Linked DNA regions of Homo sapiens. The protein of the gene in region 7 purifies or fractionates together with the protein of the main gene of each other region. This does not show direct contact. Each region holds a gene or a part of one and is shown on either strand. Other genes may lie near its edges. The genes, in order: NUP50, TMEM231, PAPOLA, DDI2, OSBPL11, GTF2A1 and NIBAN2.

The links.
Region 1: the proteins of NIBAN2 (region 7) and NUP50 fractionate together in Homo sapiens (co-fractionation; one large-scale study listed by BioGRID). This does not show direct contact.
Region 2: the proteins of NIBAN2 (region 7) and TMEM231 purify together in Homo sapiens (co-immunoprecipitation; one large-scale study listed by IntAct). This does not show direct contact.
Region 3: the proteins of NIBAN2 (region 7) and PAPOLA fractionate together in Homo sapiens (co-fractionation; one large-scale study listed by BioGRID). This does not show direct contact.
Region 4: the proteins of NIBAN2 (region 7) and DDI2 fractionate together in Homo sapiens (co-fractionation; one large-scale study listed by BioGRID). This does not show direct contact.
Region 5: the proteins of NIBAN2 (region 7) and OSBPL11 purify together in Homo sapiens (co-immunoprecipitation; one large-scale study listed by IntAct). This does not show direct contact.
Region 6: the proteins of NIBAN2 (region 7) and GTF2A1 fractionate together in Homo sapiens (co-fractionation; one large-scale study listed by BioGRID). This does not show direct contact.

Annotation. Positions count from the first base shown.
Region 1 is NC_000022.11:45,177,146-45,181,255, forward strand, and holds part of NUP50 (nuclear pore complex protein Nup50), read left to right. Parts: intron 1-1,092; coding exon 1,093-1,755; intron 1,756-4,110. UniProt on the Homo sapiens protein: Component of the nuclear pore complex that has a direct role in nuclear protein import. Actively displaces NLSs from importin-alpha, and facilitates disassembly of the importin-alpha:beta-cargo complex and importin recycling.
Region 2 is NC_000016.10:75,542,483-75,546,592, reverse strand, and holds part of TMEM231 (transmembrane protein 231), read left to right. Parts: intron 1-515; exon of another isoform or gene 516-638; coding exon 639-767; intron 768-1,097; coding exon 1,098-1,241; intron 1,242-3,909; coding exon 3,910-3,991; intron 3,992-4,110. UniProt on the Homo sapiens protein: Transmembrane component of the tectonic-like complex, a complex localized at the transition zone of primary cilia and acting as a barrier that prevents diffusion of transmembrane proteins between the cilia and plasma membranes.
Region 3 is NC_000014.9:96,508,494-96,512,603, forward strand, and holds part of PAPOLA (poly(A) polymerase alpha), read left to right. Parts: intron 1-4,110. UniProt on the Homo sapiens protein: Polymerase that creates the 3'-poly(A) tail of mRNA's. Also required for the endoribonucleolytic cleavage reaction at some polyadenylation sites.
Region 4 is NC_000001.11:15,620,077-15,624,186, forward strand, and holds part of DDI2 (protein DDI1 homolog 2), read left to right. Parts: intron 1-4,110. UniProt on the Homo sapiens protein: Aspartic protease that mediates the cleavage of NFE2L1/NRF1 at 'Leu-104', thereby promoting release of NFE2L1/NRF1 from the endoplasmic reticulum membrane.
Region 5 is NC_000003.12:125,588,777-125,592,886, reverse strand, and holds part of OSBPL11 (oxysterol-binding protein-related protein 11), read left to right. Parts: intron 1-4,110. UniProt on the Homo sapiens protein: Plays a role in regulating ADIPOQ and FABP4 levels in differentiating adipocytes and is also involved in regulation of adipocyte triglyceride storage. Weakly binds 25-hydroxycholesterol. Interacts with OSBPL9 to function as lipid transfer proteins.
Region 6 is NC_000014.9:81,189,697-81,193,806, reverse strand, and holds part of GTF2A1 (transcription initiation factor IIA subunit 1), read left to right. Parts: intron 1-967; coding exon 968-1,288; intron 1,289-4,110. UniProt on the Homo sapiens protein: TFIIA is a component of the transcription machinery of RNA polymerase II and plays an important role in transcriptional activation. TFIIA in a complex with TBP mediates transcriptional activity.
Region 7 is NC_000009.12:127,566,274-127,570,283, reverse strand, and holds the start of NIBAN2 (protein Niban 2), read left to right. Parts: upstream 1-1,210; 5' UTR 1,211-1,409; coding exon 1,410-1,464; intron 1,465-4,010. UniProt on the Homo sapiens protein: May play a role in apoptosis suppression. May promote melanoma cell invasion in vitro.

The DNA.
Region 1 (4,110 bases), on a different chromosome or scaffold from region 7:
AGGAAAAGTGAGTGTTCGTATCCACTGGTTTCTCATCCCCAGAGTACTGCATTGAGACAGGGTCTCGCTCTGTCACCTAGGCTGGAGTGTATTGGTGTGGTCTTGGCTCACTGCAGCCACAACCTCCCGAGCTCAAGTGATCCTCCCCCATCAGCCTCCCCAGTAGCTGGGATTATAGGTACACACCACCACACTCAGCTAATTTTTACATTTTTTGTAGAGATGGGGTTTTGCCATGTTGCCCAGGCTGGTCTCAAACTCCTGAGCTCAAGCGATTTGCCCACCTCAGCCTCCCAAAGTGTTGGGATTACATGCGTGAGCCACCACACCTGGCTGAGGACTGCATTTCACAGGTGTAGAACCTGCAGGTACAGAGGGGCGACTGTACTTTAATACTGTTCATCCCAACAACCTTGGGGATTAAGTGTTAATGCTGACCTGCTGTTCTAACAGTGCTGTTTGAAATAGGCATCCTTTTGTCTACTGCCACACCACCCTCGACGCGCCCGATCACATCTCAGATAGGCGTCCTTTTGAAGGAAAAGATTATTTTTAAAATGTGTAGAGCAAGCATATGGTGGTTAGTGTTCTTGTATAAACTTTGACTTGATCTTTATTCATCGGCTTTACTGATAACTGGTTACTAAATTCTACTCCTTGAACACATACTTTTTGAGCGGTCACAAAAATAGGGCACAGTAGGTCGGGCGCAGTGGCTCACGCTTGTAATCCCAGCACTTTGGGAGTCCGAGGCGGGCAGATCATGAGGTCAGGAGTTCAAGACCAGCCTGGCCAACATGACGAAACCCCATCTCTACTAAAATACAAAAATTAGCCGGGTGTGGTGGCGGGTGCCCGTAATCCCACCTACTCGGGAGGTTGAGGCAGGAGAATCGCTTGAACCTGGGAGGCAGAGGTTGCAGTGAGCCAAGATCGTGCCACGGCACTCCAGCCTGGGTGACAGAGCAAGACTGTCTTGGTGTGGGGGGAGATACAGTAAAAGCAGAAAGTATGAAGGCAGAGTGGCAAAAAAATCTAGATGATTTAATCAAATTAGGCTAAATAAATGGTTCAATTATTAACTTTCTATAGGTTCTCTTGCTGCAAATGGCCCTACCACCTTGGTTGATAAAGTTTCAAATCCCAAAACTAATGGGGACAGTCAGCAGCCCTCCTCCTCTGGCCTTGCTTCCAGTAAAGCTTGTGTCGGAAATGCCTATCACAAGCAGTTGGCCGCCTTGAACTGCTCCGTGCGGGATTGGATAGTGAAGCACGTGAATACAAACCCCCTCTGTGATCTGACACCTATCTTTAAAGACTATGAGAAATATTTAGCAAACATTGAACAGCAACACGGGAACAGTGGCAGGAATTCTGAAAGTGAATCTAACAAAGTGGCAGCTGAAACACAGTCTCCTTCCCTTTTTGGCTCAACAAAATTACAGCAAGAGTCAACGTTTTTGTTTCATGGCAACAAAACTGAAGATACACCTGACAAGAAGATGGAGGTGGCATCTGAAAAGAAAACGGACCCATCATCACTAGGAGCGACAAGTGCCTCATTTAATTTCGGCAAGAAAGTTGATAGCTCTGTTTTGGGCTCATTAAGCTCTGTCCCCCTGACTGGATTTTCTTTCTCCCCTGGAAACTCCAGTTTATTTGGCAAAGATACTACCCAGAGTAAACCAGTCTCTTCACCATTTCCCACTAAACCATTGGAGGGCCAAGCAGAAGGTGACAGTGGTGAATGCAAAGGTAAGTACCAGCTTTGTCGTTGAGTCGAGGTTTGCATAAGATTCTTGTTTCTTGGGAAACCCAGAGACTTTGATTCCAAATATGAGTCTGGATTCACATTGAGACGTTGTTCTCTCCATGTGTGATCTCAGACAGAGCTAATCAGCTTCTCTGAGTTTCAGATTCCTGCTTTATAAAAGAGTAAGACTTTTGTAGGGTTGTTTATAAGGATTAAAAATAAAATGAATTTGAAAACACCTGACTTTGAAAAGTCTCAAACACACATGGTTTAGCATATAAAAAACAAGTGAATTAAAGACGTTTTTTGAAAATTGTGTTTTTGGAAAAGTTCATCAAGTTCATCATGAATGTCCCCTGAATTGATTTGTACTTAGGAGATCTCACTGTAAATAAAGTCATGTGGCAAAACAGTACTTGACTATACATTACAAATGTAGACTTTTCATAGCCATAGAGAAGAAATCAACATTGTTTTCCTCCTGTGGGTTTGGAGGCGCCTCCTTTCCAGAGCGTGGCAGTGGTGTCTAAGTGATGTTTCCTGTGTGTATCGTCAGTGCCCCAGACAAGGCACAAGGTCTGGGCCCTCCAGACCTCTGTTGTTAGCTTAAAAAGTGGGGTGATGTCATGATGCTGCTTCCTCACATGGTGGTTGTGAACAGGTGATGTCTGTGAAGACACCTACTTCTAAGCAGTTGAAAGTGAGGCCAGGTGAGGTGGCCCACACCTGTAATCCCAGCACTTCGGGAGGCCAAAGTGGAAGGCTCACCTGAGGCCAGGAGTTTGAGACCAGCCTGGGCAACATAGCAAGACCCCATCTCTACAAAAATTTTTAAAAATTAGCCAGGCCAGGTGGTGGGCGCCTGTAGTCACAGCTACTCTAGAGGCTGAGGTGGGAGTATCTCGAGCTCAGAAGTTCAAGGTTGCCATGAGCCGTGGTTGCATCACTGCACTCCAGCCTGGGCAGCACAGACCTTGCCTCAACAAAAGAAAAAGTGTACTTCTCAGACATATGGACATACTGATCCTTGAGGAAGAAAACTGCATTTGCCAATTTGCCTCTGAAATATTACGGTTTTCTATCAGGAGTCTAGACTTCCATTACTGTTTTGCCTTGCCCTGCTTTCAAGTATATCCTCAGGCACGGGCCCTCTGGGCACAGGGTGAAATAAGGGTCTCCCCTTTTCTTTCTTCTCTGCCTCCCATAAATAAAACAAATGGGGAGTCTTTCCTGAGGCAGGCACTGGGGATTTGAATCGAGTCCCAGTGGAGGCAGGATGCCCCTCAGTGAGCGCCTGTTCCTTGTCCCTTGGTTATCACAGTTTAAGCATCAGAAGACTCGGGAGATTGGAGGGATAAGACGGACAGTCGTGTGACCTAATCATCTGAGCATCACAGTTGTTTTTCTTAGAATTGCTTTTTGGTGAGTTTTTATGCAACTGCCGTTCTCTTTAAGAGGATCCTTTTATATATGTGGGGTTTTTTATTTTTTTGAGACAGGGTCTCGTTCTGTCACCCAGGCTAGTAGTGCAGTGACGCAATCATAGCTCACTACAGCCTCTACCTCCTGGGGTGAAGCAATCCTCCCACTTCAGTCTGCCAAGTAGCTGGGTCCACAGGCACGTACCGCCACACCTGGTTAACTTTTTTATTTTTTGTAGAGATGGGGGGCGTCTCACCATGTTGACCAGACTGGTGTTGAACTCCTGGGCTCAAGCGATCTTCCTGCCTTGGCCCTGCAGCGTGCTGGGATTACAGGCGTGAGCCACTGTACACAGCCTAATACATGTGTTTAAATGATGGCCTAGGTCTCCCGTGTTTGGGAGACCCCGTTAGTGGGGATACCTTTGGTACCAGAGCAGTGACCCATGTGGCAATTCAGACAAAGCTTAAATTACTTACACTGGGGCTTTGGAATGATTTTTCTGACAACTTGTCCCCTGTTAAAAAAAAAAAAAGTATTTTTCTATCTTTGGCTATTACTGATACTTGTAGATGTAGTCACAGGAATATTCAGGGGTGAAGGTGTTAAAAACTCATCCGAGATGGAATTTTCCAGTGGGTAATTTGCATATAGAGTGTTGATTTTTTTTTTCTGTCATAAGCATGGAGATTTTTCCATTTTAAGGTTTTCTATATATTGGAAGTTATTTTAGAATTAAGAGGTATGTTCCCATTAAAAGGGATTCTTATTTTTCACAAAATAGTTAAAATCCTGCAGGTACTCCCTTCTGGCATCCCCCCCCCCCCCCATTAAGTGTGCATTTTAGTCTGTCAGTTTACATGGAGTGCTCCGGTGGAGGTTTAGGGTGTTACGTAACAAAACTTCAGTCACTTCTTTAAGCTCTGGATTGGAAT
Region 2 (4,110 bases), on a different chromosome or scaffold from region 7:
TGGGCACTTGTAATCCCAGCTCCTCAGGAGGCTGAGGCAGGACAATTCCTTGACCCTGGGAGGCGGAGGTTGTAGTGAGCCGTGATTGCGTCACTGCACTCCAGCCTGGGCGATAGAGTTAGACCCCGGCTCAAAAAAAAACAAAAAAAAATAGAGCTTGGTGATTTTCTGTTGAGTTTGAGTTTGTTGGAGGAATGCATAATGATTAGGATTAGGTGTTTTTCTATTTTAACAAGTTGACTTCTAGAGACATAGAAGACTATTCTGACATGCTACTTAAAATTTCCATACAAATTCAGGCATATTTGTAAAAAAGAAAAAAATATCAGTGCAAAATAAGCAAGATCACATGAGACAACTGAAAGGCACAAATACTATCCAGATGTTTTTTGTTATTGCCCATTTATTTTGGCCAGTGAACATTTGAAAGGCCCAGATATGAAGTTCAGGGACCATGCACTTTGTGTCTCTCCCCAGTATTAATGCACTTACATCTATCTGCTTTTCTCTTTTAGTGGAGGAGATAATGCCTGTTGTGTACAGCAAGACAGTGGGTCATTGTGTATTTACAGAAGTGATGTGGATTCCTCCCAGACTCATTAGTGACCAGGGCTGCTGGGCCTGTTTGGGTTTCCTAGACTAGAGAAGAAGACAGGAACCAGGATGGGAAGACGGACATGTTACATTTTAAGCTGGAGCTTCCCCTGCAGTCCACGGAGCACGTTCTCGGTGTGCAGCTCATCCTGACTTTCTCCTATCGATTACACGTGAGTCAGTCCGCTGGGAGGCTGTCCTCTCCCTTGTGTCTTTTTAGTAGACCAGAGTCCTTCTTCTGATTTCTAGAAGACCCGCACTCTAGCGGGCCCTCTTCCCCATGTAGTTTGGGATTTAACTTAGGCCAATGGAATGGTTTTCACTAGTCATATTAACTGACATGGGCTATTAATAGCTCAGAAGGTTCTAGGCAGTGTTTCCTGCATGGCTACGCTAGGTATGTGAGGGCCTCTTAGGTTTCAGCCAAGACAGGTGACTCTTAGCACCCAGAGCCCTTCAGATCTGATGGCGGTTGGTATTGTTGGTCCTTCTAATGATTTCAGAGGATGGCGACCCTCGTGATGCAGAGCATGGCGTTTCTCCAGTCCTCCTTTCCTGTCCCGGGATCCCAGTTATACGTGAACGGAGACCTGAGGCTGCAGCAGAAGCAGCCGCTGAGCTGTGGTGGCCTAGATGCCCGATACAACGTAAGAGCGCTTCTCATTGTCCAGCTCCTTTGTTTCTCTGTGTTACTGTTCATTAAGTTCTTTAAAGAGGGGAATGAAAAGTAGAAATGTCAGGCCAGGCGCAGTGGCTCATACCTGTAATCCCAGCACTTTGGGAGGCGGAGATGTGCGGATGGATCACTTGAGGTCCGGAGTTTGAAACCAGTCTGGCCAACCTGGTGAAACCCTGTCTCTACTAAAAATACAAAAAATTAGCCAGGCGTGTGGTGCGTGCCTGTAATCCTAGCTACTTGGGAGACTGAGGCAGGAGAATTGCTTGAACCCAGGAGGTGGAGGTTACAGTGAGCTGAGATCTCGCCACTGCACTCCAGCCTGGGCAACAGAGCAAGACTCTGTCTCAAAAAAAAAAAAAAAAAAAAAAAAGAAAAAGAAAAGAAAAGTAGAAATATCATTTCTTTGTGGGTGGCACCAAAGAGGGTCTCTGTAGAATTCTTGCCATGAATTTTTTCAAACTACAGAGAAGGTACACGCATAGTTACACCTAGAAGGGAAGAGAAACAAAATCTGTGTTTGTCGAAGAACTAAATTGCTTATTGCTTTTAGGTCCACGTGGGTGCACACACACACATTGTGTCTTCCATACACACGCTTGGTCACACGCAGGATGTACTCCGAAGGACACTGTAAAATGATGATGTAAAATGTTCATGTAAAGTATTTCAGAAATATTACTAGCCATAGTTTACTGAACTCATAACATATGCCACCCCTGAGTGCAGGCGTTTACCTATATCATCTCCTTTAATCATCATGGCAACCTCTGAGCTGCCTGCATTGTCCTTTCCCCGCACTCCAGCCACTTGTCCCATCACTGCCCCCGCTTGCTCCCTTCCAGCCCCCCTGGCCTTTTTGCTGTTCCTCAAACCCAAGAAGCAGCTGCCACCTCAGGGCTTTTGCTTTTGCCATTTCCTCTGCCAGGCATCCATGTGGCTTATCGGACCATGCCATTCAGGTCCCTGTTCAGATATCCCCAAGCCCAGTCCTTCTCTGACCTGCTTCTACAGTAGCAGCCCCTCCTTCCACCATTCCTCAGCCAGACTCTCCCTCCTGCCGCCTGGCCTACTCAGGATATGTGTTTGTGTGTTTATTTGCTGTCTCCCTCAGCCTTGACAGCAGTGGCATCTCAAATACTATCACATCCGTGCCTAGCACACTGCCTGGCAGATGGTAAGCTCACAGAGATACTTGTTTAAATAATGAACTCATTTTGCAGAAGACGTAACTGGGGCTTAAAGTGATTAATTTTCCCAAAGGCTCAAATCTTGAAAGATAACAGAGCCTGTCTGTGTGCAGAACTCATGCATCTAATCACTCATTCCTCACTTTTATTTTATCACAATGGGGACCATAGAAGTTGAGCTGAGGTACTTCTGAAAATGAAAAAGGGATGTTATCGGTTATTACAGCCATAAACCCAGACTTGTAGATATATAGTGGGTTTTACTGTTGCTCTGACTATAATCAATATAAGTTGTAAAGAATAGGAAGCTGCAACATATGAAATGAATATGGCACTTTTTGTTTGAATGTCTATATATCAGATTACATTAACAGCAAGCAATTATTTCCTCCTTTAAGGGATTATATGCTTATGGTTTGCATTTTATCTATATCTCTATATTTAAAAGTGATAAAGAACTTAGCACCCAGAAAAGACCAAGAAAATGACAAAGGAGTTGGAAGTATGGTTTCTTTTTTTTGTCTTTGTGTAGGGGTTTTTATTTGTATTTTATTTTTATTTTTGAGACAGAGTCTTGCTCTGTCACCCAGGCTACAGTGGAGTGGCATGATCTCGGCTCACTGCAACCTCTGTCTCCCAGGCTTAAGAGATCCTCTGATTTCAGCCTCCTGAATAGCTGGGATTACAGCCATATGCCACCACGCCTGGCTAATTTTTGTTTTCTTTGTAGTAGAGATGGGGTTTCACCATGTTGGCCAGACTGGTCTCGAACTCCTGGTCTCAAGTGATCCATCTGCCTGGGCTTCCCAAAGTGTTGGGATTAGAGGCGTGAGCTTCCATGCCTGGCTTTTTATTTTTTTTTATTTTTATTTTTTTTTGAGAGATGAAGTCTTTCTCTGTTTCCTAAACTGGAGTGTAGTGAGTGGCATGATCATCATTGACTACGGCCTTGAACTCATGGCCTCAAGTGGTCCTCCTGCCTCAGCCTCCCAAGTCACTGGGATTGTAGGCATGAGCCACCACACCTGGCGAAAATACGGTCTGTTAAAATAATTTAAGGAATTCTTTCTCCCGCTGAGATAAAGAGGGGTATTTTAAAAATAGCTTTAAAACCTGTAAAACATGGACACTGACCCCTTATTTCCATCCACAGAAAGAAAGACTGAGAGTAAATGGGCTTAAATTGTTGCAAGAGAGTTTATTCATCTTTGAAGAGAAGATTATTGATACTGCAGTAGGCCACCAAGAACAAGAGGGTGCTCTGTGGGACCAGCCTGGGTGGGCAGCAGCCTGTTTTATTCATCTTTGAAGAAAAGATTATTGATACTGCAGTAGGCCACCAAGAACAAGAGGGTGCTCTGTGGGACCAGCCTGGGTGGGCAGAAGGGTAGAAGGAAAAGGGGAGGAGTCTCCCAGGTGCTCACACCACATCCTCCTCCCGTGTCCCAGATATCCGTGATCAACGGGACCAGCCCCTTTGCCTATGACTACGACCTCACCCATATTGTTGCTGCCTACCAGGAGAGGAACGGTGAGTCACAGGTAGAGCCCATTCAGCCGCTGCTCAGGACTTTCAAGGTTAGTGGGGGCAACAGAGACAAGCAGAACTGGAACCCTTGTGATGAAAATGTCAAAACCCGTGAATGCTCA
Region 3 (4,110 bases), on a different chromosome or scaffold from region 7:
TACTCAGTTCCTATCCCTGATTGTTTTCCTCACCTTCTTAAGGCAGAAGCCAGTTCTGGCTTGATAACAACTTTGAAAATGTTTTGGCTCATCAGAACATTCTATTCTTGGGTAACTAAGTCAACTTTAGGTTAACATTACAATTAAATTTCATCTTCAGTTTTATCTAGGCAAGTTTATAAAGCTAGCTTCTTTCAGGTAAAATGAGACCATTTGGCTTCTTAGCTAGTTCTCATTTTGGGAGGGTGTGTGTGTCTCTTTTATTCTGTATGTTCAGGGTTCTAATTACCTAGCAGCTTTTAAATAATTGGACAATGCCAGTTTATGATTTACAAAGCAGCAACATTATAGGAGGTAATTGGTTCCCCTAAAAGTTGGTTAAAGTTGAGGCTCAAAAGAATACCTGACCAAGGTCATAAAGGTACTAAATTGTAGATTGGGGCTTAAATCAGCTCTGGATTCTGTGTTGCATTGTCATTCCAGTACACTATACCATCTCCTGTGGACACTGTAGGGAACCATGTGTGGTTAGCTCAGTTGGAGTCTTTATTTATTTTTGAGACAGGAACTCACTGTTGCCCAGGCTGGAATGCAGTGGTGTGATCATGGGTCACTGCAGGCTTGACCTCCCAGGCTCAAGGGATCCTCCCACCTCAGCCTCCCAAGTATCTGGGACTACAGGCACGCACCACCATACGTGGCCAATTTTTGTATTTTTTACTGTGACAGGGTTTTGCCACGTTGCCCAGGCTGCTCTCAAACTCCCGGGCTCAAGCAATCCCACCTTGGCCTCCCAAATTGCCGAGATTACAGGTGGCTCATGCCACCATGCCTGGCCAGTTGGAATCTCTGTATAGTTTCAAGTAGAATTAATTTTCAAGCTCAATTTTTTTTGTGTGTATAACATGTAAATCTCAAAGTATTTACATAATAAAAATGTATACAAAAGTATATAAACAAAAGTAACATATAGTGTATACTTGTAGTATACACAGAATGTAACATACTATAGAACCTGAGATCTTGTGCATTGCTTAATGATTGGATATATTCTGTAAAAATGTGTTATTTTTCAGATTTTATTGTGGGAACAGTGTACTTAACACAAACCTAAATGGTATAGCCTGCTATGCACCTAGGCCTATGCACCAATGATATGGCCTGTTGCTCCTAGGCTATAAACCTGTGGCAGCATGTTACTGTACCGAATACTGTAGGCACTTGTAACACATTAGGAAGCATTTGTGTATCTAAATGTATGTAAACACAAAAGGAATAGTAAAAATACGGTATTATGCTGTTATGGGACCACTGTTATATGTGTGGTCTGTCATTGACTGAAGAATTCTGTTAACGTGGCACACGACTACTTTCAGTGGCTTTATTTGCATATATATTCTTATTTAAAGCCATGCACAGATTTGCCACTTAGACGCCGCTTTGTTGTGGCCAGTACCTTTTGTGGGAGTTGCTTTTTTTTTTTTTTTTTTTTAATCTTTGGATTGTATGTAGGCCTGCTGAACTGTATAGCAATCTCATTTGTGGAAACCTAAGGATTTGGGAAAGAAAAAATAAAGGCATTCTGTTAGATTTCTTTCTTCCTCTTTTGTTACAGAATTATTTTTCAAATTTTTATTCCCTCTATATTTTGTCCAGAAATTGGATTCTTGGATTTTACGGCAGTTTTTATAATTTTGAGGTTGATCAAGAATAGTGTTTGTCATTTTGATCATTAGAAACATTTAAATTACATTTCCTGAAATTAGTGTCTGTAATACTATGACTTACTATAATCTTGACTATTTTCTGATACATTTTCACACTCTTTCGTACTTTTTCAGGTCCTGTTTCATACTTTATTAAATTTACATTTCTTTCATTTTCAAGTTGTACTTGGCAAGTTGATGTAGCAGTGTACAATTTGGCTTTTTTTTTTTTTTTTAAGTTTCTCCTAGCCATATGAGAGAGAGGGACACAACACACACGCGCGCGTGCGCTTGTGCGCAAAGGGGCAGTTGGAAGTACCCTTTGGAAGTGAGGAAAAATAACTTGGCCATTGTAGTAATTGAACAGCAAGTACCCTTTCTCTGCATAAGCAACCTTGAATTTTCAGTTTGGCCTTGGGCTTTATCATACATACTTTATTCCCCTTGAGCATAAACAAACTATTAACATCATCTTTGAGCCTCTGCTGCTGCTTTACTAAATATTGGCTGGATGGCCCACCTGCAGTACGTTTTTAAGAATATAGTGGGATCTAAATATTTTTAGTACCACTTACACAGAACACCTTACGGTGGGCCAGTTAACCATCGTTTTAATTTCTTAGCAAATAGATTATTTTGGCGATAATCTTGCCTGTAAGCTACTATCATGCCGTATACCTTGTGAAAAAGGAGATTGTATTATTTTGGCTAATAATTAATATTTAATGCACATTGAGATACTTTAGAGAGATCCCTTGTATCTTTTCTGTTCATGTCCTTTGAATGAGCACATTAAGGTTAAGACCTTTAAACAGCAAATTCTACTGTGATGAATTGTTACTTTAAATAAGTTAACTGTAGTTTATCTGATTGGTTTCAAAGAAGAATATTTAGCAAGTTTGGCTTTCAGTTTTAACTCTATCATGCAAATAATAAAGTGTTTTCTGTTAAGTAGTAGCTATAAATTGGGGCAGTTGACTCTGTTAATATCATGGGCCACAACTTGTTCCAAATGCCTAATATCACTAGGTGGGGATTAATCAGTAGTGCCTGATGAGTTTTGTATAAATTGAGACACAGGCGGGCTGTGGTGGCTCATGCCCGTAATCCCAGCACTTTGGGAGGTCAAGGTGGGAGGATTGCTTGAGCCCAGGCGTTCGACACCAGCCTGGGCAACATAGTGAGATCCTGACTCTATTAAAAAAAATTAAATTGAGATGCAAAGTACTTAAACATTAACTATTTAAGGAAAACACCAATGGAAATATGATGTTCTGTCCTTTTGTGTGTTAGTCGTCTGCCTAGATTACGCCTCTCCTTTCCGATCATTTACTGTGTACACCTTCTGGCATAGTCATGATTTTATCTTTGTTTCTTTAATGGTTTTTTTCCCAAACTTCTACTTTGCACTTGTTGTTTAAGGATCTGAATCCCAGACTAAATTTGAGATTGTCATTGAAAACAGAGACTACCTTAAGCATCTTTGTATTTCTGATTTTATTTAGCATTGTCTTTTATGCATATTTAGGAATTTGGTACATTTCAACCTCATAAATACTGTACTTTCTGACAAAAGGTAGATGAGAAAAAAGTGCTTTTAGGAAAATTGAGTTGATGTTTAATAACTTGGCCGCCCTAGCAGCTTCCTGGAGCAATAAATAAAGCAATATTTGCTTTGGATTTACTATTTCTAGCCACAGAGTATTGCACTAAAAAGCTATTTTAAAAATCTTTGTTTATTTCACAAAATAGTGTTTTAATTAGCATAAACTGAGTTTTTAGCTAATAACCAAAAGCTAATTATTGTTTTAATTTGAAGATTTGTTTGGTGCCCCTTGCTGCCATTATAGGGGGTTATTTTAGCCTCCTTGCTATAACTATTCTAATTTAATGGTGAACGGTAGAATTAGTTGACTTTCAACTTTTGCAAGATTATTAATATTTACTTTAAATAATTTAACATGTTGAAACAAGTTTATAAAATATAAGGTAAAATTTTACGGTCTCAATTCTGCTTGATTGTGTTTCTATGAATGTGTTATGGACATAATATACAAATAGTTAAAAAAAAAACTGGGTGTCATGGTCCATGCCTGTAATCTGAGCTATAAGGGAGGATCGCCTGAGCTCAAGAGTTTAGATCAGCCTGGGCAACAGAGCAAGACACCATCTCTAAAATTAAAAAAATATATATCTTTATCTATATGACTACATATTGTAAATGATGTGCAGAGGTGCCTCAGTATAGAGATGATTATTATAGGCTATGATATCAGCTATCTGGGTTCATATTCTGGTCCAGTAAACTTAGTCAAGCCTTCTTTCTTAGTTTAATAGTAAGAGTTGTTAGAAAAAATTGGGAATAATGTAAAGTGCTTGACTTAATACGTGGGTTATGTTGAAA
Region 4 (4,110 bases), on a different chromosome or scaffold from region 7:
GCTAACTCCAAATTATTTCTTGTTCATTATGTCAATGTTTCGGCATTTACTTCCTTCCCAAGCCAAATTAGCATATAGAAACTTGGGCTCCAACTGGTGTTAAGCCTGTATTAGATAGCCATAAACAGCTCCTGTTTTTCCAGTCTGTTCTGTTGGCTCCATTGTAACCTGACAACACAGTATCTATTTTAAGGTGTCTGGTGGTCGGTTGTCTTTCACTTGCTTGCTTGCCCATCAGGCAGGAACAGGATCCACCCTAGACACTTGAGTCATTTCCTTTCATCAAATCATAATAGTAAACATCACTATAGTTTTTACCCATAAATATATCATGTTTACTTACTTGAGTGTCCCCCCCCATTACCTCCCAGGGTTCTCTCATATTACTCATCTTCCCTTCCTTTCCTAGACTGTTTAACTCCTCCTCTTGTTTACATTCTCCATTCCCATTCCTTCACCTCTCATTTCTGATTCCATTTCTTCAAGGAAATATATATATTTTTATGTTCTGGCTATTTTTTCCTGCCACTATGTGTCCACACCACTGGTGTCCAAACTTTCATTCATGTATCCCTATCAGTAAAATGTTTCAGATTATGCTTCTGTTATGTATATAATACATTATATACATGAACTGATACGTTGTATACATTATATATGGCCACATGTGCATATAATACACATAACGTGCATTATATGCATATATAATATGTTATCTGTAAAGTAACATTGTACACACACAAAATGGAGCTTAAGGAAGGACGAACTAAAATAAATGGAAATGAAAATTCTAATATTTTCAGTTTCTTCCTCCACCGTTAAAGAATTGTCTTGCATGGCTGCCCTACATTGGTGATCAATGGTTTAGAATTCAGTCTTTCACCTGAGTGTCAATTGCACATAAGCATATAGTTGGAAAAGGTGTTAATTTTTAACAGCTCTAGTCTGATGATAGTAGTTACAATGCAGTGATAACAAATTTAGAACAAGCCATCTCTGCTTGTACATGTGATTAAAGCTGGGCATGTTCTGTCTCTTAATAGAAGTGTGGGCTTGGAAGCCAGTCATGGCTCTGTTTGATGCTTTGATGCAGACTTGCCTGGGTGAACTTCAAACAGTTATCAGAACTTAGCTTCACTTTAAATTAATGTCTTCATATTTTTGAGACATGATAATTTACCTCTGTAGGTGGCATATGGAAAAAGTAGGCACAACATACAAGGACCCTCAAATGAAAGGCAAATAATAGCAGTAATTGTATGATCTTGGAAATGCACACAGCATGATTTGTGGTTTGTAAACCACTATTTTATCTTCTGTGTGTTTGTTTTTTTGAGACAGGGTCTTGCTCTGTCACCTAGGCAGTAGTGCGCTCACAGGTCACTGTAGCCTCAACCTCCTGGGCTCAAGTGATCCTTCCACCTCAGCCTCCTAAGTAGCTGGGACTACAGGTGTATGCTACGACATATGACTAATTTTTTTGTTTTCTTTGGAGATGGGGGTTTCACTGTGTTGGCCACGCTGGTCTCAAACTCCTGACCTCGGATGATCTGCCTGCCTTGGCCTCCCAGAGTGCTGGGATTACAGGCGTGAGCCACCGCATCCGGCCCCAAATTGATAATTTTAAAGGCTACATAATATACCATCATATAGATGTGTTGTAATTTAGCAATTTCCCTTTTGTTGAGCATAATATTGGGGAAAATTGGAAGCAGTTGTAAGTAACATGCCATGAACATCCATATACTTAAGACTGTAGCCTCCATTTCTGTTTTCTCAGGATGAATTCTTAGATATGCAGTTGCCAGATCAAAAGCATAAAGTCTTTGAAAGGTTTTTAGTAAATTTAGATTATACAAGTCAAATTGGCTATTACATGGGGTAGTATATGTAGATAACTTGGTAGATATTGGGTATTTGATTAATGGTAATACTATTATGAAGCCATTCAGATGTAATTCCAAATGTTTTGTGGCCGGTTTATGGTCCTTATTTTATCTTTATTCTTTATATTTTAGAGATGGGATCTCGCTCTCGCCCAGGCTGGAATGCAGTGTTGCAATCACAGCTCACTGTATCCTCAACATGTTGGGGTCAAGGGATCCTCCCAAGTAGCTGCGACTTTTTTTTTTTTTTTTTGAGACGAGGTCTTGCCAGTGCTAGGCTTGAACTCCTAACCTCAAGCAGTTCTCCTGCCTCTGCCTCCCAGAGTGTTGGGATTACATGTGTGAGCCACTGCACCTGGCCTACTAGTTTATGTTCTGTAATGCTAGAAATTTATTGTTAAGCTTTTTGTTAATAGAAGGCTCTCATTCAGAGACCAGAAAACACCTGACCTCATGCTTAAAAGTTCTGAAGTTTTATTAATTAGTCTATTGTTAAATGTTGATTAAGATTATAATTCAGTCTCTGGGGTGCCTCCTCTGGAGTAAGTACCAGCAGTTGTGCCAGTTTTGCTGATTAAGACTCATAGCTGTATACATTTTCTTGTTGTATGTTCTTATAACTGGCAAAACTTGAATTTTGGGCTTTGTAGCTGTTGAGTTGGGTAACATGAATGGTGGAAGGATCAAGAATGCCGGCAGCGGATCCCCTTTTGTTTTTATTGGTAGAGATTTGAAGCCATGTCTAATAGATACTGAATGTTTGGTTGGAAGATCACATGGATTTATTTTGGGACTTTTGCTGCAAAATAATTGTCTTTCTTGGACTCTTAAGCCTATTTAAACAAAAAGAAATCAGTTCTTTGTGGCAATTACAATTTTAGCTAAGCTTTAGTTGATCTCATTTATGTCCTTAGATTAAAATGGAGCACAGCTGCTGCTTCGTCAGTGTGAGGAACGTGTGCGCCTCACCCAGGTTCTTCAGTCTAGTGTTTCCAGGAAATTGGCGCTGAAGCAACATTTCATATTTCATAGACATGCTCAATGTGGTGGTTATCTAGATTTTACATTTTTATTGTTAGATCATGCTGCCTTCCTTTAAAAAATGCTATTGTCTGCTGAGGAAATATTGTGGCAACTAAGCAGTGATGGAGTGAAGTATGGCATCTGTGAAGTGGGAGTCAGAGCGGGCAGTTGGTGGTGTTTCTTCATGTCCAGGGCATGGGGATGCGTTGAGCAGTGGACAGTATTTTGATCCTCTTAGTGGATAGAGTCTCTTAGTGGCAATGGATGGCTTAGTAGTACTTGTTAAAATCACCCAGCTAATTCACCAGGCCACTTTAGGGTTATGTTCGGGAAAGCTGTATATGATACTCCTGGAGTAATGGGCTTTGAAATTAGACAGTTCCAATTGCAGTTTTCTTCTTCTTTTTTTTTTTTTTTTTTTTTTAAGAGACAAGATCTTATTCTGTTGCCCAGGCTGGAGTGCAGTGGTACAATCATAACTCACTGCAACCTCGAACTCCTGGGCTCAGGTGATCCTCCAGCTTCAGTCTCCCAAATAGTTGAGACTACAGGCATATGCTACCATGCCTGGCTTATTATTATTATTATTATTATTATTTTAGAGATGGGGTCTTGCTGTATTGCCCAGGCTGGCTTTGCATTCCTGGCCTCAAATGATCTTCCTACCTCATCCTCCCAAAGTTTTGGAATTAAGGCGTGAGCCATGGCACCCAGCCTGCATAGGATCATTTTGATTCTCCTGAGTTTGCTTCCTCCTTGTAAATAAATAAATTTTCTCTTATAAATAGTTAGTGGCCGGGCGCAGTGACTCACGTCTGTAATCCCAGCACTTTAGGAGGCCAAGGCGGGCAGATCACAAGGTTAGGAGATCGAGACCATCCTGGCTAACATGGTGAAACCCCGTCTCTACAAAAAATACAAAAAAAAAATTAGCCGCTTGTGGGGGCAGGTGCCTGTAGTCCCAGCTACTCAGGAGGCTGAAGCAGGAGAACCTGGGAGGCGGAGCTTACAGTGAGCCGAGATCCCGCCACTGCACCCCAGCCTGGGCGAGAGCGAGACTCCGTCTCAAAATAAATAAATAAATAAATACCGTTAAAATGTGCCTCTGCTCCCAGGAGACTGTTCATGTATCTCTAAATATACTGATAGTTGAATTTCTGAAACTGGAAAATTAAAGAGTAGGTTGTTGACAGTGGCTTCA
Region 5 (4,110 bases), on a different chromosome or scaffold from region 7:
TATGTTTAGGTTTCTGATGCATTTTTAGTTCATTTTTCTTTATGATCATTTTTTTTTCTTTTGTGAAACATCTACATATGTGTTTTTTATACATTTCCTGTTAGGTCTTAATATTTTTCTTTTTAATATGCTTGATATCTCTTATTAAAATGTCAACATTAAATACCAATATTCCTTTAAAAATATTTTGTTGATTTTTCTTCTTTTCAATAGGTAAAGGGATGAGTATATACAATGAAACATTTCCCTTACATACTTTCCCAGCCACTCGGTTTCCTTCTCTGGAAATGCTATCTTTTACTGATTTCTTGACTATAATTCCAGAGAAATTTATATTAGTTCTTTATTTAATAAACATGTGATGACATGCAATATATTTTAATTTTGTATAAATTCTTTGCTATACTTTCTGCAAATATTTCACTAGTCCTCAGATTTAATTTCATTTTTTTTGACACACAGAAAACTTTTAAGTCAGACCTCTTATTCCTCTTTTCCATCCATTTCTAATTATAAAAAGTAACTTTTATAAGTACTTGGTTTTGGCTGGCACTGTAGCTCACCCAAAGTGTTGATCCTTAGCACTTTGGGGCGCTGAGGTGGGAGCATTACTTGAGCCCAGCAGTTTGAGACTAGCCTGGGCAACATAGAGAGACCCCATCTCTACAAAAAATTAAAAAATTAGCCAGGCATGGTGGCATGCCTACTCAGGAGGCTGAGGTGGAAGGATTGCTTGAGTTCTAGGCTCCAGTGAGCTGTGATTGTGCCACTGCACTCAAGCCTGGGTGACAGAGCAAGACCCTGTCTCAAAAATAGTTAAATAAATAGTTGTTTTCATGAAGTTTTAAAATAATTTGGTAGTTTTACAATTTAACTTTTTTTTTTGAGACAAGGTCTCTCTCTGTCTCCCAGGGTTGAGTGTGGTGTCTCCATCATAGCTCACTGCAGCCTTGAACTGCTAGGCTCAAGTGATCCTCCTATTCAGCTTCTGGAATAGCTGGGACTACAGGTGTACACCACCATGCCCAGCTAATTTTAAAATTTTTTTCTAGAGGCAGGATCTTGCGATGTTGCCCAGGCTCATATTTAACTTTTTAATCTATCTGGAATTTATTTTGAAATACAGTGTGAGATAGTGTATCTACTACTGCATTACAAATTACCCCCAAATTTAATATATTAGCAGCATTTATTATTTCATAGTGTCTTTGGGTCAGGAATCTCAGTGCAGCTTAGCTGGGTCTTCTGGCTCTGAGTCTTTCTTAAGACTGAACTGGGAAGGATTCATTTCCTAGCTGATTCATGAGACTCTTGGTGCAATTCAGTTCCTTTTGGCCCATTGGACAAAAAACTCAGTTCCTCATGAACTGATGGCCAGAGACCTCCTTTGTTCACTGGCCACATGGGCTTCTTCACAGAGCATCTTACAACTTGGCAGCTTGTTTCTTGAGAATGAGGAGGTAAGAGGACTAGAGAGTGCTACCTGGAGAGAAGTTAACAGTCTTTTGTAACCTAAGCACTGAGGTGAATTCACATCACTTTTCACTGTTCTTCAGAAACAAGTCCCACACAAGGGTGTGAGAATACCAGCAGGTGGGGATTATTGGGATTTATGCCAGAAAATGCCTAGGCAGTTAATATAATAGACTCAAGATTGTAAAGACTAGAGGGGAAAACGGACTTGGGGAGTCAAATTATGTATCTGGTTTTAGGTATGTCCAGCTAAAGTTGCCAGAATGTTTAAGTGTCTTATCTAGCCAGTCCTCAGAGATATGGAGTATTGGAAATGTAGATAATTGTCTTTACATTATCCAGAATGTTTTCACATCTGTTATCACATTTAATCCTCCCAACTCTGGAGGAAGATACAGCATTATTATTCCTGTTTTGCAGTTGAAGAAAACCTAAGTCTAAATGACAATATAGACTTAGGCAATATAGTACATGAAGTTATATATTGCATGTAGCTAAGGTTACATAGCTAGTAAGTGGGAGAACTTTTATTTCTAGATAGATATTTACATAGAGGTATTAAAAGTAGATAAACTCTCTAAAAGGAATGAATAATTATTGATAATAACTAGTTTGGTACATGGTTGGTTTTATGGTTTACTCATGTTCTAACTTATGTAGCAAATATTTTTGAGTCTCTACTATGTCTGAAGCACTCTTTTATTAATGCCAAATTAATGTGCACACCCAAAACAACGAAAGAATGAATTCTAAGGCTTATTTTAGGAGGATCATCAAAATAATCAGGAAAAGGAAGGGCATCAGTGGCATTTACAAAACAATCTCATGATGACCTTTTGAAAAAAAAAATTTTTTTTTTGAGACAGAGTCTGGTCCTCTTGTGCAGGCTGGAGTGCGGTGGCAGATCTTAGCTCACTGCAACCTCTGCCTCCCAGGTTCAAGTCCAAGCGATTCTCCTGCCTCAGCTTCCCAAGTAGCTGGGACCACAGGCACTTGCCACCACACCCGGCTGATTTTTGTATTTTTAGTAGAGATGAGGTTTCACCATGTTGGCCAGGCTGGTCTCAAACTCCTGACCTCAAGTGATCCACCCACTTCGGCCTCCTGAAGTACTAGGATTACAGGCGTGAGCCACCGTGCCTGGCCCTTTTGAAAAATTAAACTTAAGAACTTAATTTATTAGATTAGCCTTGTATTTTCTTGTTTCCAGAGTAATTTATATTCATATGATGTGAGCTTTCTTTACCATTTACAGAGAAGATAGATTTCCCAGTTCTGGGTCTTTCCTTCCTTTTTCATAGTGAATATTCACACTTTATAAAATATGCATGTTTTCATTATTTTTGTATTCTTCATGTCAGCTTGTAGAGAAATTCACAAATCTGCAAATATGCCACCTGCTTATTAAAATGGGCAGAAGAGAACTATTCAAAAGAGGAACTGAAAGACAAACCAGGGTGTTTGATGGCCTGCTTTTTTTTAAAATTTTGAGCTCCTCACTGGCTAATCATATTAACAGATAAATCTATTTTCCTCATTAGCAAACAGCTATACTTTTCAGTAAATGTGTAAAAGTCTGCAAATGTGTAGTATAGAAATAATTTTTGTGGTCAGACCACAATAATTTTGTGGTTTCTTCCACTGTCAATACTATTATAAGGAAAAGTGCCTGTTCGCGGATGGGAAAATGAGATTGGCCTAAATATAAATGAATGTTCATGGTCTTAGAGGTTTTACCTCTTCTTCTGAGTTGATTTGAAGAAAAAGTCATAAATGTCTGCTTTTTTTTTTTTTTTCCTCTGCAGGGGTTAAAGGAAAATTGATACATATTTCTACACTCTAGTTTTTGTTTTCTGTATCTGACATCTGCTATAGATGCTGGTAAAAACAAGAGAAAGATAATTGTAGGCATGTAACTGGAAACTATAAAATATTATTCCAAAATCTAGTTAAAAATATACCAAGTCTTGAGGAGCAAGAGTTGGTTTATTAATAATGTGCTGTGATTTCTTAGTTTCCTTACATTTTTGCACTACATATCTTTTCTGTTTTGTTTTTTTTTTTTTTTTTTGAGATGGAGTTTCACTCTTGTTGCCCAGGCTAGAGCACAATGGTGCAATCTTGGCTCACCACAACCTCTGCCTCCTGGGTTCAAGCGATTCTTGTGCCTCAGTCTCCCGAGTAGCTGGGTACAGGCAGGTGCCACCCGGCTAATTCTTATATTTTTGGTAGAGACGGGGTTCCACCATGTTGGCCAGGCTGATTTCGAACTCCTGACCTCAGGCGATCTGCCTGCCTAGGCCTCTTAAAGTACTGGGATTACAGGCGTGAGCCACCGCACCCGGCTTTGTCTACATTTCTAATCATTTGTCATAGATGGGATACCTAAAAGTGAAATTCTAGGGCCAAAGAGTGCTAACATTTTTAAGACTCTTGGCAGGAGGGAGGACCCCTCTCTTGACTTTATACTTTTTGTCATAGATTAAAATACAGTTAGACTTTATTTTGTTTGCGATTTTGAGTATACAGTCTGCGAGTTGAATTTTTTGGGGAGGAGGTGGGCAGGTTACTGAGAATTGCCTCATGGCTTCATAGAAAAATTCTGTTTCTTTCTTCCCATTGCTTAATTCATTCAGC
Region 6 (4,110 bases), on a different chromosome or scaffold from region 7:
TAGTCCTCCTCCTTTATTATAATACATATAGTTAATATTTGTTAGTATATATTTTTTCAAGTTGTGGCTTACTTTAGAATCCTAGATGCAGAACCTGGAAAGGAACTTCAGAAATCTGATCTGGTGGTTTTTAGAAAAATAATTAGCTTTTATCTCACACTGAGTCAGAATATTAGGGGTATGGCCAAGGTATCAGTACTTTTTAAGTTGCCAGGTGGTTCATATTTGCAGCCAGGATTGAGAACCATTAAGCCTAGTTTGACAGTGAAACGACAGAGGCCAAGAGGAGTTAAATGACTTGCGTCTGCTGTATTTATGTCTGACTTTAGACAAAAGTAGACCCAGGTTGGCCAGGCGTTGTGGCTCACGCCTGTAATCCCAGCACTTTGGGAGGCGGGCGGATCATGAGGTCGTGAGTTCGAGACCAGCCTGACCAACATGGCAAAACCCCGTCTCTGCTAAAAATAACAAAATTAGCCGGGCATGGTGGCGCGCACCTGTAGTCCCAGCTACTCAGGAGGCTGAGGTGGGAGAATTGCTTGAACCCAGGAGGCAGGGGTTGCAGTGAGCCGAGATCACACCATTGCACTCCAGCCTGGGTGACAGAACGAGACTCCATCTATAAAAAAAAAAAAAAAAGGTAGACCCAGGTTTTCAGATTCTCAGTCCAGTGTTCTTCATGTGAAGGCAGTGTATAACTTTTGTCCTGGTAGCTGGCATATACATAGTATGTGCTCAATAAATGAAGCAGTTATCTTTAGAAAATCCTTATTTTCTAGAAATTTGATAAAATAGAAATTTAATGGGTCACTACACTAGTTAAACTAATTGCTTTTGTACTTTGGTAGTTTTTAACTGTGTATGAAATATGGCCATTCTGGTGAATCTTAAGCATTTGTTTCTATTTCTGTGTACCATACTTGATCCTCTTAACTAGTTACTGTTATGTGGTTTTCTTTTGCTTTAGGTGCTGGCTCCTCTTCCTGGAGGGATTTCACCACAGACAGGTGTCATCATCCAGCCTCAGCAAATCTTATTTACAGGAAATAAGACTCAAGTTATACCTACGACAGTGGCAGCACCTACACCAGCCCAAGCACAGATAACTGCAACTGGCCAGCAGCAACCGCAGGCCCAGCCTGCTCAAACACAAGCTCCATTGGTCTTACAAGTTGATGGAACTGGGGATACATCATCTGAAGAAGATGAAGATGAAGAAGAAGACTATGATGATGATGAGGAGGAAGACAAAGAGAAAGATGGAGCTGAAGATGGGCAGGTGGAAGAAGTAAGTTTCTAGTAACATACTTAAAATAATCTACTTGATTATTTCCTTTTTTAGTTGGTACAACACTGATAAATTATATCCTGTTTTTTTCAGAGACTGTTAGGTGCTGTACAACATAAGATTTTAAAGATAAAGTTAGATTGTTTTAACTTTAGTAAGGTTTTTATATTCTGGCTATATTTATCTTCATAAAATATAACTTTCATATAGCTGGTAATAAAAAATGTATAACAAATTAAATTGTATTAATATGTGTAGTAAAGAGTACAGGTAATTCTAACTCTGGCTTACGCATTTATAATGTGGCTTAAACATAAGACATTGGTAGATAAATAGATGTGGTTAATCTTTTGCTTCAGTAATTTAAAAAGCGTGGCAACATTTGGGGAGAGAGCAAACTCAAGAACCAAATGTCACAAATTTATTAAATATTTAAAACCTTTTGGTCCATGTTCTATACCACTTCCTTAAAAACCTATGTACCCTTAATGTCTGTGTTCTTCTAGAAGCATATAAATATGCCTTTGTTTTCCTCACTATTTCAGCTTAGTTACTAGGCTCCAAAAACTATTTGTCCCACCACAATTTTCACTGTTAATTGCCTTCGTTAGCCTAAAATGCAGTCTTTTTGTTTCTTAGTACAAAGTTCTTCTAAATTATCTAAGTAATTTTTTTTCTGAAGAAAACATAGTTTATTATTGAATATTGAATAGACACAAATGAATAGAAATGTTTCAAGATAAAAATCATCCTGGTGCCCACCATCTAGTTAAAATAAAATTCCATTATTTAAAGTGCCTTAGATGCCTCTCCCTAATCCCATCATTCCTAGGCCATCAAAGTACCTTTGCTCATACATTTGTGTTGATTATTAATTGCTTTTATATTTTACCATATATATTTATATTCCTAAATAGCATATTGTTTAGTTTTGCATGTTTACAACGTAAATGAAGTAATTACGTATTCTTCTGCAAGTTGGTTTTTTCCCCTTAAAATGATATTCCTGAGGTTTATCCAAGTTGTTGCATATAGCTATAATTATTTTCATTGCTGAATATACCATAATTTTATTTGTCAATTTTTCTAATCCAGTGGACATAAGGATTGTTTCTTGTTGTTTACTGTTACAAACAGTTATAAAATATTGTAGTGTATGTCTTCTGGGGACACAAATGCAAGAGGTTCTCTAAATTTTATACCGAACATTGAACTTCTGGCTCCTAAGTCATGCACATCTGCAACTTTATAATAAAATGCCAAATCACTTCTGCCATTCAATACATAATTGTGCAGATGTCCATACCCCCTTATCAATACCTGATAGTGTCAGGCTTCCTGATTTTTGCTGGTCTGGTAGGTAGAAAATAGTATTATTTCATTTTGGTTTTAGTTTGCATTTCCTCACTTAGGAGTTTTAGCCTCTTTTTGTATATTTATTTGATATTTGTGTTTTGTATAGAAGTGCTTATTGAGGTCTCTTGCCCGTTTCCTCCCCCTAAATTCTTCATAGTTTCAGTGCTTCTTGAAGTAACATGTTTTTATTACCTTTTCCAGTTTATTGGTAGGATGGAAATATGTAGCGCTTTTAATATTCATCCTTGAACCAGCCACCGTCCTAATGTCTTTTGTTAGTCCTCATAATGTATCTGTAGATTCTTTTGTATCTTCTGTGTAGACTTTCACATCTTATATGAAGAACGGCAGTTTTTTGTGGCTCATTGGCTAAGCCTTCGGGAACAGTATTGATTAGAAGTGGTGATAGCAGGCACTCTTCTCTTCTTCTTAAACTGAAAAGTAATCTTTTCCATGCTTCACTGTTAAGTTTAATGTTTGTTGTGGGTTTTCTTTTTTTTTAATGGATATCTTCATCAGGTTAAGTAAATTCCCTTCTTTGCATTGCTTTGTTTTTTAAACTGTAAGTGAATGTTGCATTTAATTAAACACCTTTTCTGCAATGATTTGTATAATTTCTCACGTAATGTTATTTATAATGGATTTCATTAATTGATTTTCTATTTGTAAACCAATCTTGTACTCCTGGGATAGCACAACTTGATCATTTTATATTTCTCTTTTTATAAATTGCTGAATTCATTTTGTTGAGGACTTTTTTGTAGATATTTATGATTGATAGATACTGTGTGATTTTCTGTTCTCATACTCTTCTTACAAGGTTTTCAGTTATGGTAGCTTTGTTAAATGAATTTGGGGACATGTTTCCTGTATTTTGAACTCTTTTTTTTTTTTCAAAGATTGTATTTAATTCTTCTGTTGATATTTGTTAAAACATGACACTACAGATACCTGGGTCTAGTAATCTCATGCCCTTCAAGTATTTTGTTTCTGTTTGAGACCGTTTTGATAAGTTATATTTTTCTAGGACTCTCTATATATTTATCTAAATTTTCAAGTTGATTAACATGAAGTTAATCATGATATTGTCTTTTTGATGCCAGAATCCTTTGTCATCTTCATTCCTAATATAATTATTGTGCCATCTTTTTTTTTCCCTGTTCAGTCTTACCAGGGATGTGTTGATTTTATTAATGTTTTCAAAGAGTAAACTTTTAGCTTTATTCTCTCTAGTGTGTTTTTCCCATTCTATTCTTTTCTGACTTAACTGTTTTGTTTGTAGAGAATATGATCTGTGTGATGTGTGAATCTTTTGAAATTGCTTGAGACTTGCTTGATTTGGTCAGTTTTTGTATATGCTTTGAAAAGAATGTGTTTTCTGCACTTGTTTGGTATTTGTATGTGTCTGTTAGATTTATATTGTCAGTAGGTTTGCTCAGATGCTCTTTATGTATCCTTGATATTTT
Region 7 (4,010 bases):
TAATCCATTTCAAACCTACCTCCTGTGGTGTGCACAGGCCTGAAGTACAGGTGCTCAGCAAATTTAACTGTTATCATCATCACTTCCTGCCTTATGCCACAGTCACACTAAGAGCTGCCCAATAACAACGTGAAATGCATGAGAGAAGTGGTGAGTGCTTAGTTACCAGGGGTCAACAAGCAGAAAGTGGATGGCCTTGTCCCAGTGCAGATCAGGAGATCTGAGCACCAGCAGCCAAAGGATTGAGATCTGGGGATCCCACTGGTTAACCTGACTGTCTCCCCTGCCAGCTTGGGAGGTCCTGAAACTGAAACACATTCCCCTGGCACTGCGACCCACCCATGCCCAGCCCCATAGGCTGGTGCCTGTCGGTCTCCGGGTTTTGATTCTGGTAGTCTTTTGCAAACTGTAAAGTGCTACTGCTTTTTCCTTTTCTGATTTGCTCTGTCCCCCAAGCCGCCTCCCGAGTGAAATGCCCATATGCTGAGCCTGAGGCAAGCCCGCCTGGCACTGGGGCGGGGGTGCCTTCGGGCCCGAGCCTTCCCCACCCCCTTCCTATAGCTGTTGTGCAAGACCAGCGGGCACACCTTCTGGGGCAGGTCGAATCAAGGCCAGGGAACTTCCTGAGCGCGGGCAGTGGCGGGCGGGACTTGGGGGGGCAGGGGGCACTGTTCAGGGTAGAGGAGGGGGCGAACGCCGAATTCCGGCCCGTAGGTCCAGGCGTCCCCTGCCAGTGCCCCACATCCTCCTCGGCGCGATTCTTTTCCCGCGCGGGCAAGGTTGGGGAGGGGAGGGGGGTGACACTCAGGCTGGAGTCCCCCAGAGCACCCCCAGTTTTTCAGATGTCCCCACCAGCCCCGTCTCTTTCTCTGCTTAGGTACAGGGCGGGTGCGCTCTTCGCAGTCTCTCCGCGGTCTCCCTTTCTGGGACCTTCTCTTTGTCTCCTTCTCCAGGGCGGTCCCGGCGTCCACCGCCCCTGTGCCCCGCCCGCCGGAGGCAGCGGAGGGGGCGGGGCATACGGGGCGGGCCCTGGAGGGGCTGGGTGGGGCGCAGGGGGGTGCAGGACCGAGGGCGGGGCGGGGCGGGGCGGGGTGGGACGCGGCGGGCGCAGGGCAGCGGGCGGGGAGGGGGCGGGGTTGGCCTGCGGGGGCGTGGTCTGGTGGGGCGGAGCGGGGCGCCGGGGTGCAGGGCCGAGGGCAGGGAGGGGGCCAAGGCGGCCGGCTGGAGGGACGGGGCCCGACCGGGAGCGGAGCCGGAGCGGAAGCCGCAGCCGGGCGGCGGGAGCGGCGGGAGCGGCGGGAGCGGGGGAAGCAGGGCGGGCCGGGCTCCATGGCGCCAGCGGCGTCCGCCTGAGCAGCGCGGGCAACAGCGGCGGCGTCGGCCGGATCGGGCCGCGACACCTCCTGGCCATGGGGGACGTGCTGTCCACGCACCTGGACGACGCCCGGCGCCAGCACATCGCAGGTGAGGGTCGCGCCGCGCCACGCGCGCCCAGGGGCCTGCCGGAACCCCCGGACCACGCCCCCGCCCCGGCCAGCAGTTGGCGCCGGGGCCGGGGGCTCGGGGGAGTCAGGCCGGGCCGGTGGGAGCTGCCAGGGAGCGTGCCCCGCGTCCGAGCTCGTTCCCTCTGAGCCTGGGCGCCCCTTCCCGCGCTCTTCTGAGCGCCACCTTTCCCGGCTCAAGGGGACTCGGAACTCCTTCTCTCCCGGAACCCCTTCGGAGCCCGGGCTTGGCGGACCCCCAGCCCACGACCCCTGGCCGAGCTGGGGCAGGGGTCGCAGCCTGCTGCCCACCCTTGGCTGTCCCCGCCCAGAAGCGTTGCAAGCCCATCCGCTACCAGCTTTGGGATCTCCCAGACCCAGCCAGCTCGCGCTCACCTTCCTCCCCAGCCGTCCCGTCCCCAGCTCCGCCGGGCCCCAGCCCTGGTACACGTGGCGGAGGCTTCCTGAAGGACGCGCCCATGAAGGCCCGGGACTGATTCTGGGGAGTGGGGCCAGGGATCGATGGGGCGCCCCGGAGGCGGTGGGGTTGCATGTCCTTTGGCGCAGACAGCAGGCTGCCCCTGCTAGCAGCAGGGGCCCAGGGACCGGTCACCAGAGTGGGGGGCCCTCAGGGCCAGTCGCCAGCCCCTTCAACCCTGTTCTTCAGCCAACCCTACTCTCAGCCTATTACTGCACAGTGGCCACTTCTCCCAGGGACAGCTGTCCCCAAGGCTCCTGGGGAAGCCGGAGCTGCAGAGGGGGCCTGGGTTCCTTTTCCCCACAGACTCTGGAGAACAGTGAGATAGGATGAGGATCTCGGCTGCCTGAGAAACTCCTCTCTGGCCGATCTCTCCTGGCTGGTGGAGCTGCCCTGGGTGGAATCCCAGCATTTGCTTCCCAGACATCTGTCCTGTACACCTTGGTTTTCTCCTTTTTGAAATGGGGTCAGTGATTTCTTCCTTATTAATGAGTTGTTGGGAGGCTTACGTGAAGTAACTCATGTGGCTTGCTTAGCACAGAGCCTGGCATAGGAGAGGCACTTGTATGTGGGGTGACGGTTCAGGTGGGTCGCCCCTCGCTGTCTAGTGGGCCCTGAGCACCGCGTCCGCCTGCACTTATTTTTGTGTCCTGTAGAATTTCACCACCGTGTTCTCCACGCTCCCTTGAGAGCAGGAAGCCCTGAGAGCAGTGGCCAGGTGTCCTTTAACTCCATGTCTCCAGGGCCGCACCCATGCTGGGCACCAGGGAGGTGCTGGGGAGATCTGCCAAGTGACTGTGGTCCCGGGCCAAGTCCCAAGGCCAGAGTCCCTCCCTTGTGCCAGGCCTGGGGCTGGCTGGGCACAGGGGTGACTGGGGTGATGTGAAAATGAATCGGACCCTCTCTAGCCTCTGACCAGCGTGGGGTTAAGTCCTGGAAAGCCTCCTTATCCGACCAGGCCTGGACTGTGGGAGGAGGAAGGGCCAGGGCGGAGTCTTCCTGTCCCCTCCCTGTCGCAGCAAGCTCCTGGGGCTCTGTAACAGTCCCTCCATTCAGGACCTCCTGTTGAGGCCCCTCGAGGGGCCTGGGTGGGGTGTGCCTTGCATTCGGTGGGGTTTTTCCTCTCCCCATACTCAGTGCTGGGCCTCCCTGTCTTCCCGTCTCCTGGGCTGAGAATTGCCAGCCCACCCTCTCTCCCCTGGCATGTTACAGGGGAGGGGACTGAGACCACAGAAGGTGAAGTGTCCTTTACTGGAGAGGGTTGGATTTATTTTCTGGATACCAGGCTGGGTGGAAGAAAGTTGTGCCCACTCAGAGCCTGCTGGTCTCTCTCTTCTCCACACTTCAGTGCTATTTATAATCCTCTTTAAATGCCTCGAATTCCTGGTCCAGACTCACCTGAGGGGAGTTCCTGATGTGGGGGGGTGGGGTGTTGGAAGGGGGCAGCGGGGAAGCCTCCCAGTCTCCCCAGAGGAAGTGAGCTGCCTTTGAAATCTCTGCTGGAAGGGAATGAGGGCGTGTATTTGCCTCCTCCAGTGATCCAGGCACCCTCCTCACCCCACCCAAGGAGCAGTAGGTACTCTCAAAGCTGGCAATTAAAATTCCAGAACCCTCCCTACCTGAGGCCTTGTTCTCTGCCCCAGTAGAAATGTCAGAGTTAGAGACATCCCTTCCCACAGTGCTCTGAGTTCCCAGGCCTGTTAGGGTTCCAAGGTTTGACCTGCAGCTTTGTGCCCGCCCCAAGCAGGTGAGCAGGTGAATGCCAGCCTGCCTGCAAGTCCTGGCAAAGGTCAAGCGTGCTCCCGGCCACGGTGCTGTTTTGCTGCCACGGCACCTTTCATCCTGGGATTTCAAAGCCCCTGGCAAGCAGAGGCTTGTTTCCACACCAGGAGCCCCACGGGGCTGGTGGCAGGATGACTCCTGCCTCCTTACACGAGGCAGTGTGCCGTGAGGAAGAATCCCTGGCCTGGGATCTGGGAGGCCTGAGGATCCTTGGGTAGGCCACTTCCTCTCCCTGGGTCTCAGTTTCCCTAGTTGTGAACCGAAGTGGG